Homo sapiens: one gene and its partners. The protein of the gene in region 1 interacts with the protein of each later gene in a pairwise test. Each region holds a gene or a part of one and is shown in the gene's direction. Other genes may lie near its edges. The genes, in order: PKD1, ATF7IP and PTPRG.

Evidence for each region.
Region 2: the proteins of PKD1 (region 1) and ATF7IP interact in a two-hybrid assay, tested with the Homo sapiens proteins (one large-scale study listed by IntAct).
Region 3: the proteins of PKD1 (region 1) and PTPRG interact in a two-hybrid assay, tested with the Homo sapiens proteins (one study listed by BioGRID).

Annotation. Positions count from the first base shown.
Region 1 is NC_000016.10:2,133,099-2,137,318, reverse strand, and holds the start of PKD1 (polycystin-1 isoform 1 precursor), read left to right. Parts: upstream 1-1,420; 5' UTR 1,421-1,629; coding exon 1,630-1,844; intron 1,845-2,067; exon of another isoform or gene 2,068-2,286; coding exon of another isoform or gene 2,287-2,291; intron 2,292-4,114; exon of another isoform or gene 4,115-4,200; intron 4,201-4,220. UniProt on the Homo sapiens protein: Component of a heteromeric calcium-permeable ion channel formed by PKD1 and PKD2 that is activated by interaction between PKD1 and a Wnt family member, such as WNT3A and WNT9B. Both PKD1 and PKD2 are required for channel activity.
Region 2 is NC_000012.12:14,424,628-14,428,274, forward strand, and holds part of ATF7IP (activating transcription factor 7-interacting protein 1), read left to right. Parts: coding exon 1-846; intron 847-3,647. UniProt on the Homo sapiens protein: Recruiter that couples transcriptional factors to general transcription apparatus and thereby modulates transcription regulation and chromatin formation. Can both act as an activator or a repressor depending on the context.
Region 3 is NC_000003.12:61,568,071-61,571,717, forward strand, and holds part of PTPRG (receptor-type tyrosine-protein phosphatase gamma isoform 1 precursor), read left to right. Parts: intron 1-3,647.

The DNA of each region.
Region 1 (4,220 bases):
TTGGAATACAATCGCAGCCTTACCATCCACCTGCTGTGTGACCTGGTAAATTTCTTTTTTTTTTTTTGAGACGGAGTCTTGCTCTGTTGCCCAGGCTGGAGTGCAGTGGCACAACCTCTGCCTCCCAGGTTCAAGCGATTCTATTGCCTCAGGCTCCCTAGTAGCTGGGATTATAGGTGCCTGCCACCATGCCCAGCTGATTTTTGTATTTTTAGTAGAGATGAGGTTTCACCATGTTGGCTAGGCTGGTCTCGAACTTCTGATCTTGTGATCTGCCCGCCTCGGCCTCCCAAAGTGCTGGGATTACAGGCATGAGCCACCACTCCCAGCCAGTTCTTTTTTTCTTTTTTCCATTTTTTTTTTTTTCGAGACAGGATCTTACTCTTTTGCCCAGGCGGGAGTGCAGTGGCACAATCACGGCTCAGCGCAGCCACTGCCTACTGGGCTCACACGCTCCTCCGGCCTCAGCCTCTCGAGTACCTGGGACTACAAGCGTGAGCCAGTTTGGCTAATTTTGGCTAATTTTTGTAGAAACGGGGTCTCGCCATGTTGGCCAGGCTGGTCTCCAACTCCTGGACTCAAGGGATCCACCTTCCTCCCCCTCTCAAAGTTCTGGGATTACCGGAGTGAGCCACTGTGCCCTGCTGGCAAATTTCTTAAACTGTCTGTGCCTCAGTGACCTCATTTAATAAAGGGAATAATTGTAGCACACTTTTTCTAGAGCTGTGAAGATTCAATGGAATAAATAAGGCAATAAATGAATGGATGGGGAATGAAGGATGTGGGTTTCCTCCCTCTTGTCTTTCAATAAGCTCTCACCATCAACCTCCCATTGCCTGTTCTCTCTCTTCCCCCTCTCTCCCTCTGTCTCTCTCTCAGCCAGGAAACCTGGGGTAGGGAGGCTTGGAGCCAGCGGGTGCGTCGGGAGGCTGCGGGTACTGACTCGGGCCGCGCACGGAGATTGCGGGAGAAGGATCCACACCGCGGAAGAAGGATCAGGGTGGAGCCTGTGGCTGCTGCAGGAGGAGGAACCCGCCGCCTGGCCCACACCACAGGAGAAGGGCGGAGCCAGATGGCACCCTGCCCACCGCTTCCCGCCCACGCACTTTAGCCTGCAGCGGGGCGGAGCGTGAAAAATAGCTCGTGCGCCTCGGCCGACTCTGCAGTGCGACGGGCGGAGCTTCCAGACGCTCCGCCCCACGTCGCATGCGCCCCGGGAACGCGTGGGGCGGAGCTTCCGGAGGCCCCGCCCTGCTGCCGACCCTGTGGAGCGGAGGGTGAAGCCTCCGGATGCCAGTCCCTCATCGCTGGCCCGGTCGCGCTGTGGCGAAGGGGGCGGAGCCTGCACCCGCCCCGCCCCCCCTCGCCCCGTCCGCCCCGCGCCGCGCGGGGAGGAGGAGGAGGAGCCGCGGCGGGGCCCGCACTGCAGCGCCAGCGTCCGAGCGGGCGGCCGAGCTCCCGGAGCGGCCTGGCCCCGAGCCCCGAGCGGGCGTCGCTCAGCAGCAGGTCGCGGCCGCAGCCCCATCCAGCCCCGCGCCCGCCATGCCGTCCGCGGGCCCCGCCTGAGCTGCGGCCTCCGCGCGCGGGCGGGCCTGGGGACGGCGGGGCCATGCGCGCGCTGCCCTAACGATGCCGCCCGCCGCGCCCGCCCGCCTGGCGCTGGCCCTGGGCCTGGGCCTGTGGCTCGGGGCGCTGGCGGGGGGCCCCGGGCGCGGCTGCGGGCCCTGCGAGCCCCCCTGCCTCTGCGGCCCAGCGCCCGGCGCCGCCTGCCGCGTCAACTGCTCGGGCCGCGGGCTGCGGACGCTCGGTCCCGCGCTGCGCATCCCCGCGGACGCCACAGCGCTGTGAGTAGCGGGCCCAGCGGCACCCGGGAGAGGCCGCGGGACGGGCGGGCGTGGGCGCGTTCCCTGGCCCGGGACGGGAAGCAGGACGCGGGCCAGGACGCTCCCAGGGCGAGGCTCCGGCGCGGCACGGCGGCCCTGCTAAATAAGGAACGCCTGGAGCCGCGGTTGGCACGGCCCCGGGGAGCCGAAAAACCCCGGGTCTGGAGACAGACGTCCCACCCGGGGGCTCTGCAGACGCCAGCGGGGGCGGGGCGCGGAGGCCGCGCTCAGCTGGGAGGACAAACAGTCGCTAATTGGAGAGGAATTGGGATGCGGCCTGGGGCTGCGGGGTACCCGGAGAGGTGGGGATGGCTGTAGGGGGCGGCAGGGAAGAGTTCCAGGAGGTGTCTGGAAAAGGATTTGATGGATGTGCAAGAATTGGGCTGATGCTTAGGAAGGGGCGATGAGGTGGGTCCAGAAGAAGGGGGGTGAACGGTGTGAGCAAAGACCGTGAGGCTGGAGGCTGGCCACGGGAGGTGTGAGGGGTAGGGGCAGGGTGGGAGGTGGGCTCGCGGGTGGGCTGGGGTCATGAAGGGCCTCAGGCGCTCTGCTATTGGGTTCCAAGGCTATCCTGAGAACAGGGGTGAGGGGGGATTGCCGTGGGGGGTTAAAGCCTTGTCATGTTCGCTTTCGGGAGATAAAAACAACAGGTGGCCTTTATGGAGACGCTGCCCAGAGCCAGGTCTGTGCCAGGCTCCTGTTGGGGGTCGTCATGCGGAATCCTGACTCTGACCATCCGAGGCATAGGGACCGTGGAGATTTGCATTTCACAGATGAGGAAACAGGTTTGGAGAGGTGACACGACCTGTCCCAGGCATCACAGCCGGGATGTGCATAGCAGGGGTTTGGAACTATGAGGTGCCCAGGACCCAGGGTTGGATTGAAAAGGGCGGAGGGGACTAAGATAAGCAGACAGTTGTCCCCAGCGCTGGGGAGAGTCTTGGGACCAGTCTGATGCCTTGTATTTCCCAGGCTCCAGGCTCCTCGCCGGGACAGTGTCTCCTTGGGTGCGTGCTGGATCCCTGGGGGACGTGGCACATCCCCAGGCTTGCTAAACATTGGGTGGGTTCTGGCATTTGGTTTTGTAACGTTTCTGGGTCACTCCCGCCTGTGGCCACCCTTCCTTAGGGGAGCCGTGTGTCCTTGGGGCTTTGCTGGGTGGTCTCGAGGGTGGGAGAAGAATGGGTTCTCCTGGACCAATGGAGCCCGTGCCCCTCGGGGCCACATTGCTCCTGCGCTCCCTGACTGCGGACGCGTGTGTCTCGCGGCTGTCTCTGTGGAGATGGCCTCCTCCTGCCTGGCAACAGCACCCACAGAATTGCATCAGACCTACCCCACCCGTTGTTTGTGATGCTGTAGCTGAGGGCTCCTCTGTCTGCCAGGCCGGTCACTGGGGACTCTGTCCAGGGCCTGGTGGTTCCTGCTTCCCAGCACCTGATGGTGTCCATGAGAGCAGCCCCTCAGGAGCTGTCCGGGAGAGAAGGGCGCTGGTGGCTGCTGAGCGGAGAGCAAGGCCCGTGTTCTCCAGGCCCTTGGCACAGCAGTGGAGCCCCCGCCCCTGCCTTGTGTTGTCCTCTTAGGCTCTGGTCCTGGGGTTTGGAGGAGGGGGACCCTGGGAGTTGGTGGCCTGTCCCAGCCTGAGCTGGCAAGATTCCGAATGCCAGGCCCCCCAAGTGTGCAACAGGGCACAGGGTGACCTCATGTGGGCAGGTGGGTGCTGTTCTGTACACACCTGGGGCCGCCGCTGGGAGAGTTCTGGAAGGTGGGGTGAGGGGACCCATGGCAAACTAGGGCCTTAGGAAGGATGTGAAGGCCCTGGCTGGCCCCCCAGGCCACCCTCTGTGCTGTGGGGCAGCCCAGCCATTTTGCTGTCTACCCTGCAAACTCCTCCTCGGGGAGACGGCTGGGTTTTCCCCAGGGAAGAGGGGTCAAGCTGGGAGAGGTGAAGGACACAGATCACAGCTGCTGGCAGGTGTTCAAGGGTCCAAGAGCGTTGCTGTCTGGGTGTCACCAGTAGCCTTCCTGGGGGGCTCACGCAGGTGCCTCTCCACTTGTGGCTCCCTGGCTGCTGAAGCTCAGCAGGGACAGCTGTGTCCAGTTCCAGGTGGAGGACAGCCGGGGCTTCTGAGGCCACAGCCTGCCTTGGGTTAATGATGCTGCCGAGAGGTGGTGGCTTTTGGAAAAGATGGCGTACTGCAAAACGTGCTGCTCTGCGTGGCTCGAAGCTTCGTGGGGAGACGTGGGCAGAGCCGTGGCTGACTCACAGACCCCCCACCCCAGAGCCTGCCCTGCCCTCCCTGCCCCGACCCTTCTCCCTCCTGACCCATGTGTTTTTTT
Region 2 (3,647 bases), on another chromosome or scaffold:
ATCTGGCTTCTGGAGCACCAGCTTCCACTGATCCAGCCTCTGATGATCTGGCCTCTGGTGATCTATCCTCTAGTGAACTGGCCTCTGATGATCTGGCCACTGGTGAACTGGCCTCTGATGAGCTGACTTCTGAATCAACCTTTGATCGTACCTTTGAACCAAAGTCTGTACCAGTTTGTGAACCAGTTCCTGAAATTGACAATATAGAACCAAGTAGCAATAAAGATGATGATTTTCTTGAAAAAAATGGAGCTGATGAAAAATTAGAGCAAATTCAGAGTAAAGACTCATTGGATGAGAAAAATAAAGCTGATAATAATATTGATGCTAATGAAGAAACTCTAGAAACAGATGATACAACTATTTGTTCAGATCGACCTCCTGAAAATGAAAAGAAGGTAGAGGAAGATATTATCACAGAGCTTGCTCTTGGAGAAGATGCTATATCTAGCAGTATGGAAATTGACCAAGGTGAAAAGAATGAAGATGAAACTTCTGCAGATCTTGTAGAAACGATTAATGAAAATGTTATTGAAGATAACAAAAGTGAGAATATCTTAGAAAATACAGACTCTATGGAGACAGATGAAATCATTCCTATTTTGGAAAAGCTTGCACCTTCTGAGGATGAACTTACTTGCTTTTCTAAAACATCTCTCCTTCCAATCGATGAGACAAATCCAGATTTGGAAGAGAAAATGGAAAGTTCTTTTGGTTCACCATCTAAACAAGAAAGTAGTGAGAGTTTGCCAAAAGAAGCCTTTCTGGTCCTCTCTGATGAAGAGGATATTTCGGGTGAAAAAGATGAGTCTGAAGTTATATCGCAAAATGAAACGTGCTCTCCAGGTTAGCATATAACTTAAATGTTAAAGATTTTTTATTGACTTTGATGAACTGTTTAATAAAACATTATCATAATGTTTTAAATTTATTTTAGCTGCAGAGAAAGTTGAGAATGGTGATGACTCTATAGAAAGATGTCTTAACTTCATAGAATTCAGAATTAGTGTGTGTACTCTGTGAGTAGCATTGTACTAAATACTAAGAAGGGAGATAAAATAAGTAGAAAATATGCCCTTATAGTCTGGAAATAGAGATGAAGTAGAGCACCATAACACTGAGATAACAGTTTAAGTTAGTACATAATTGACTAGAGTTGTAGCAGTTCTTTCTTGCTATCACTTAGCGAACAAATAACTTAGAACTAAAAGCCTAATAGTTTAATCTATTTGCTTCAAGTGTAACAAATTATATTTTCAATTAATATTCCCAATGAAATCCTGTTCTTTAATATTCTTTGTCCAGGAATGACAGCACCATTGTTGTAAGCCAGAAACCTTAAAGCTTGATTATCCATTTGATAAAGACTTTACCCATTTGCTCCCTCAGCCCTTTTGATTCTACCCAACCTATTCTCTTCCTCATTTTCTGAATGAGCTCCCTGTAACCCAATTCTCTTATTTGATATTGTCCGTCTATGTCTTAGATCTCTGTTACTTTTAGGTTGATTTCAAACTCCTTATGTAAAAGGTACATTAACTTTATGATTTGTTCAGTACCTATCTCTCCCATCTCTTTTATTTTATTTATTATTCCTAGAGAAAAAGAATGAGAAAAATTCTACCTTCTTTTATGGTCAAACTGAAAAACATTATTCCTCTATGAAACTTTCTAAGCCTGTGGAAGACTGAGAAAAGCATGAATACCTTTCTTTTCCCATTATATCACATTCTTTTAGATTTAGACATCTCTGAGAGAAGTGACCTTGCTAGCATAAAACACCATCTAATTTCTTCAAAGAAAAAAAAATGGAGGCAGGTCTAAGAGACAGAGACAACTTTTTTCCCCAATATATCATACCAGCTTTTGGAGGTAGAGATTTTTTTCTTATTAAAAAATGGCTTTTTTTTTTTTTTTGGCCAGGTAAGGTGGCTCACACCTATAATCCTAGGACTTTGGGAGGCTGAGGCAGGCAGATTGCTTGAGCTCAGGAGTTCGAGACCAGCCTGGGCAACATGGTGAGACCCCGTCTCTACAAAAGTACAAAAATTAGCCAGGCGTGGTGGCACTTGTCTGTAGTCCAGGGTACTTGAGGGCCTGAGGTAGGGGGATCACTTGAACCTGGGTGGTCGAGGCTGCAGTGAGCCGAGATCGCGCCACTACTCCAGCCTGGGTGACAAAGTAAGACCCTGCCTCAAAAAAAAAAAAAAAAAAAAAAAAAAAGGATGGCTTTTTATTTTCAAAGAGCATTCAACTAAACCTATATAAAGAGACAGGCCAGGCCCTTCTTGGTTCTAGAGATTTGAAGATAGTATTTGCCCTCAGGATACACACAAGAATTAAATCATAGGCCATTAAATACAAGACTGTGAGTACAGTGATAATGTTAAATTGGCATTCTGGGAGTGCAGATTAAGGTAACTTTATTAGAGCACCAGATGTATTAGGGATGTCTTGCCCCTTTTAATATCTGTATAACAGAGGTTTTTTTTGTTTGCTTGTTTTTGTTTTGTGAGACAGAGTCTTGCTCTGTTGCCCAGGCTGGAGTACAGTGGCACAATCATAGCTCACTGCAGCTTCCACTTTACTGGCTTAGGTGATCCTCCCACCTAAGCCCCCAGAGTACCTGGGAATACAGACATGTGCCACCACACTTGGCAAAATTTTAATTTTTTTGTAGAGACAGGGTCTTGCTATATTGGCTCTGCTGTAACATAGGGTTTTAATGAGTCTAATTCTTTTTTTTTTTTTCCGAGATGGAGTCTCGCTCTGTTGCCCCGGCTGGAGTGCAGTGGCACGATCTTGGCTCACTGCAACCTCCGCCTCCCGGGTTCAAGTGATTCTCCTCCCCACTCCGCCTCCTGCGTAGCTGGGATTATAGGTGCGCGACACCACGCCTGGCTAATTTTTGTATTTTTAGTAGAGTCGGGGTTTCATCATGTTGGTCAGGCTGGTCTCAAACTCCTGACCTCGTGATCCTCCTGCCTCAGCCTCCCAAAGTGCTGGGATTACAAGCGTGAGCCACCGCGTCTGGCCAAGTCTAATTCCTTTTAATGGCAGCTCCATCCTACTTGCTGAGGCCAGAAACTTTGGAACCATTTTTATTTTTTCTTTCACACCCCATAATTAGTCCATCAGGAAATTCTGTTGGTACTACTATCATAATAGATCTAGAGTCCAATTCACAACTGTTATTACTCCTGCTGCGAGTCACCATCATCAGGCCAAAACGGTGCCTGGCACACAGTAAGTGCCCAGTAAATATTTGTAAAGTGAATGAATAATCAATAATGTAAGAGAAGCATATCATGGAGGACCTTGGTTATAATGCTAAAGCTTTATGATGGCGCTGGAATGCCAATAAAGAACTTCAAGCAGAGAGGAGAATGAAATTTACATTTTGGAAAGGTAATAGGTGACAGTGTTGAGAATGAATTTCATCCATTTCCTATAAGTGTCTATACAGAGTGTGGCACTAGGCCAAGTCCATAAAAAAGCCTTATAAGTCCTTTAAAAAAAAAAAGTCTGTATAAGAAAGTTAAAAAAGCAAATTGCAGCTTATGATTTAATGAGTACCTTTATGTCAGAATCTTGATATTGGAGGGCATCCCACACAAGGCAGTTAAGTGCTGAGAGATGAATATTAA
Region 3 (3,647 bases), on another chromosome or scaffold:
TAAAAAATCAACTATACTTGTGTAAAAAAGAGTTATCGGACTTGGCTTTGACTTATTTTTGGTATTGTGTTTATGTGGAGTTGTAACCAACAAAATCAATAAAAAGGATAAGTATATTCCAGAAACCTGTATTTACGTCTCCTTGCTTTTCCCTACAATTTGCCTGTTGCAAATTTCTAAGAACATGGGATTGTTAATGTCTCTTTAAAAGATGTCTTAAAGTAATACAGGTAAATTTCACTGTCAGGAAAGTCTGTGATGATTGAGATGTAGAACAGATAAATTTGTGGTTAACTCAGTATGAAAAGGATTGTTAGGTATAAGTGATGGCTGTGCAAGATTGCTTTAAGTAGCTAGAGGGCTTCTTGAGTGATTGTCCCCTTCTATTGGGACAACTATAATTGGAGGGACCATTTCACCTGGTATCATTTGTGGCAAGATATTTGGTGTTTTGACAGAAAAATATATTCTGTGTGAGATAGCTTGCTGGATCTATGCAGGCCTAAGGTTTTTATGATTGCAGCCCTTAATACAACTGTAAAAAAAATTTTTTTTTTGGCCTGGCATGGTGGCTCATGCCTGTAATTCCAGCATTTTGGGAGGCCCAGGCGGACGGAACATGAGGTCAAGAGATTGAGACCATCCTGGCCAATATAGTGAAACCCTGTCTCTTCTAAAAATACAAAAATTAGCTGGGCATGGTGGTGCACACCTGTAGTCCCAGCTACTCGGGAGGCTGAGGCGGGAGAATTGCTTGAACCCAGGAGGCAGAGGTTGCAGTGAGTTGAGATTGCACCACTGCACTGCAGCCTGTGCGACAGAGCAAGACTCCGTCTCAAAAAAAAAAAAAAAGATTCGTTTTAAGTGCTTCCAGGGATAGGAAGAGGAATGACAGCTGATGAGGTTTCTATATGTGCCTGGTTTCTGTTTTGGAAGCCTCCCAAACGGAATTGGGTAGTGTTTCACTTGTACTTGTGGTGGGTGTGGGGATGGAGGTAACTTACACATTGAATGAAAACTTCATGTGTCAGCCAGTTGATGAGAGTTGCCATACTATTTTGTCAGCATGTAGCAGGAAGAAAAATCTTTTAGGAGCCTGGAACTTGTTAATGCTTTTCTATTTGTTTTCTAAACTAGGTGGCTATTGAGAGTTATACAGAACATAGCAAAATAGGTAAGAATATGGCCTCTGGAGCCAGCCTACCTGTGCCATTGCTAGCCGTGCTACCTTAGAAAAGTTACATACCCTCTCTGTGCCTCATTATTTTTTTCTTCCTCTGTGAAATGGGGTGGTGATAGAAGCCTAACTCCTAAAGTCTTTGTGAGGCTTGAATGAGAATGTATATAAGGACTTAGTGCTGTGCATGGTAAACAGTAAGTGCTCAATAACCATTTTTTTAAATCAAAAGTTTTATATGTTTATTTTTATAGAGACCGGGTCTCTCCCTGTGTTGCCCAGGCTGGTCTTAAACTCCTGACCTCAAGTGATCCTCCTACCTCAACTTCCCAAAGTGCTAGGATTACAGGCCTGAGCCATTGCTCCTGGCCACCGTTTTTAAGTGTTCTTAAGAGATTTGGATAGGAGTGTATGGAAAGCGGACGGTGGAACTGAAAAGGACAACTGTATGTATAGACAACTTTTTGAAAAATTGTATAAACATACGTGATGGGTTTTTGTATCTGTCTTTGCTGTTGAGGGTGAGGAGGAGTAGGGATCAGCATGGGGACATTCTATGTAAGATTACTAACAGGTTACATTTTGAGGTTTAAATAAATGAGAAAGTCCTCATGAAGTCTGAGATATCACCTTGCCCACATTGCAAAGGAGGTCTCTGCTTTCTCAGCTTAAAGTGGGAAAAATGCTTTCTGTGGGCTTAAAATGTGTCTCATAAGTCTTCCAAATCCCTGTGTAGAAAGAGTCGCCTAGTCCTGCACCCTCAGATGTTAATTCCTCTTCTCAGGCTTTATGGACAGTGTGGTAATGGAGGGAAATAGGTTACTCATTACTGGGATTCAATTTGGCTCCACTGATGGGAAGCAAACAGTAGTTGGGTGTTTGCTTTTATTTTACACTTGTGTGACACTTGAACACATTGATGTCCTGTCTCTATATGTTCATGGATTCAGAGCTACAGAGCATATGAGAGAGAACCAAACACTGATGCACACCTCGTACCCTCTAATCTTTTCTTTTTTTTTTTTGCAGACTGAAATCAGCATGATATTTTTCTGGCCAAACAACAAAATGTGATTTTAAACTACTCAGTTTAGCTATTTTTGGGGAGTAGCAAAGTGACACAGTTGGCTGCTGAATTCTAGCAACTAAAAAAGAAAAAAATGAAAGCATAGTTCATGGAATATGTAACACTTCCATGTAAGAAAATAGGACAACTGGTCTTATTTTTGGGTCTGTGATACTGTCTTTCTAAGTGAGTGAAGCAGGGTGTTGTATAATGCAGTGGATATACTTTTGAGGAATTCATACTAGTTACAATATACATCTAAGAGGTATTTGAGTTTTCATAGCATTGCTGCCTCATGAATCCTGCAGTGCACTTAAATCAGATCTGTTCATTAATTGGGAATGATTTGGATAAGGGGACACAGCCATAAGCAATTGACCAAGCATAAAAGCATAGTCCAGATTAGTGAGGAAATATTACTGACTTTTTAAGGTTGTCTCGAGAACTTTTTAAGAATTGTCAAAAGGATTTATTTACAAAGCGGTGGTTATTTATAAATGAGTTCTACCTGTTTTTAAAATGACACTTTTCCAGAAGCGTTTCTCTTCAGTAAGTGTGGAGGCTTAGCTCTGTCTGTGGGTAGCTAAGGGTGGTTACCCAACATCTTACGGAAGTGGGGTTGGGTGGCGCTGGGGCTCTGGGAGTTTCAGATATACATATCTCTTATTCAGAATCCACACCAAAACCACAGAGACCTGGGTTGAAATTCTTAGTTCATTACAGCATTTACCTTGGGCAAATGGGCCTCACCCTTTTAATCTATAAAATGGGAATAGTAATTATAATAGCCTACGCTTACCAAGCACATGTGATCTATGCCCCGTGCTTGAGCATTTTATATGCTTTTAATCATCCCTGGAAGTATGAACCATGATTATTTCCACTGTAGGGTTAGGAAACTAAAGTTGAAGAAGGTAGGTCCAAGGTCACCGGGGTAGCAAGGCGCGGGGAGCGGTGGGGGGCGGTGACTGTAATATGTTTCTCTAATCATTGCTCAGGATTTTTTTTAAATTTTATTTCAGACCATTTGCTTTTTGAAGAGAGTATGGAAACTATTTTTCCTAATTGCACAGGAGGGCCAATTGAAAGATCTAGCTTTTTATGTATTTCACCCTGTTACTTTTCCCATATAAGCAAGTGCCATGAACACTGGGTGGAATAAAGGTGTCTTCCTGTACTTGCTACAATTAAATAAGTAAGTAATGCAATTAGTATAGGATTTTATTTGGTTACGTTGAAGAGATGACCTTTCAGCAAATTACTTTAGCTTCTGAATAAGCTGATAATAACTGTGGATAGAGTCTGAATTTGTTGGTGGTGAGTTTTTTTTTGACACTACTCCTCTTCCAAATTACCTAAATTGATTTGCTTTGTAATTTGAGAACTTTTGTTTGGGGCTTTGAA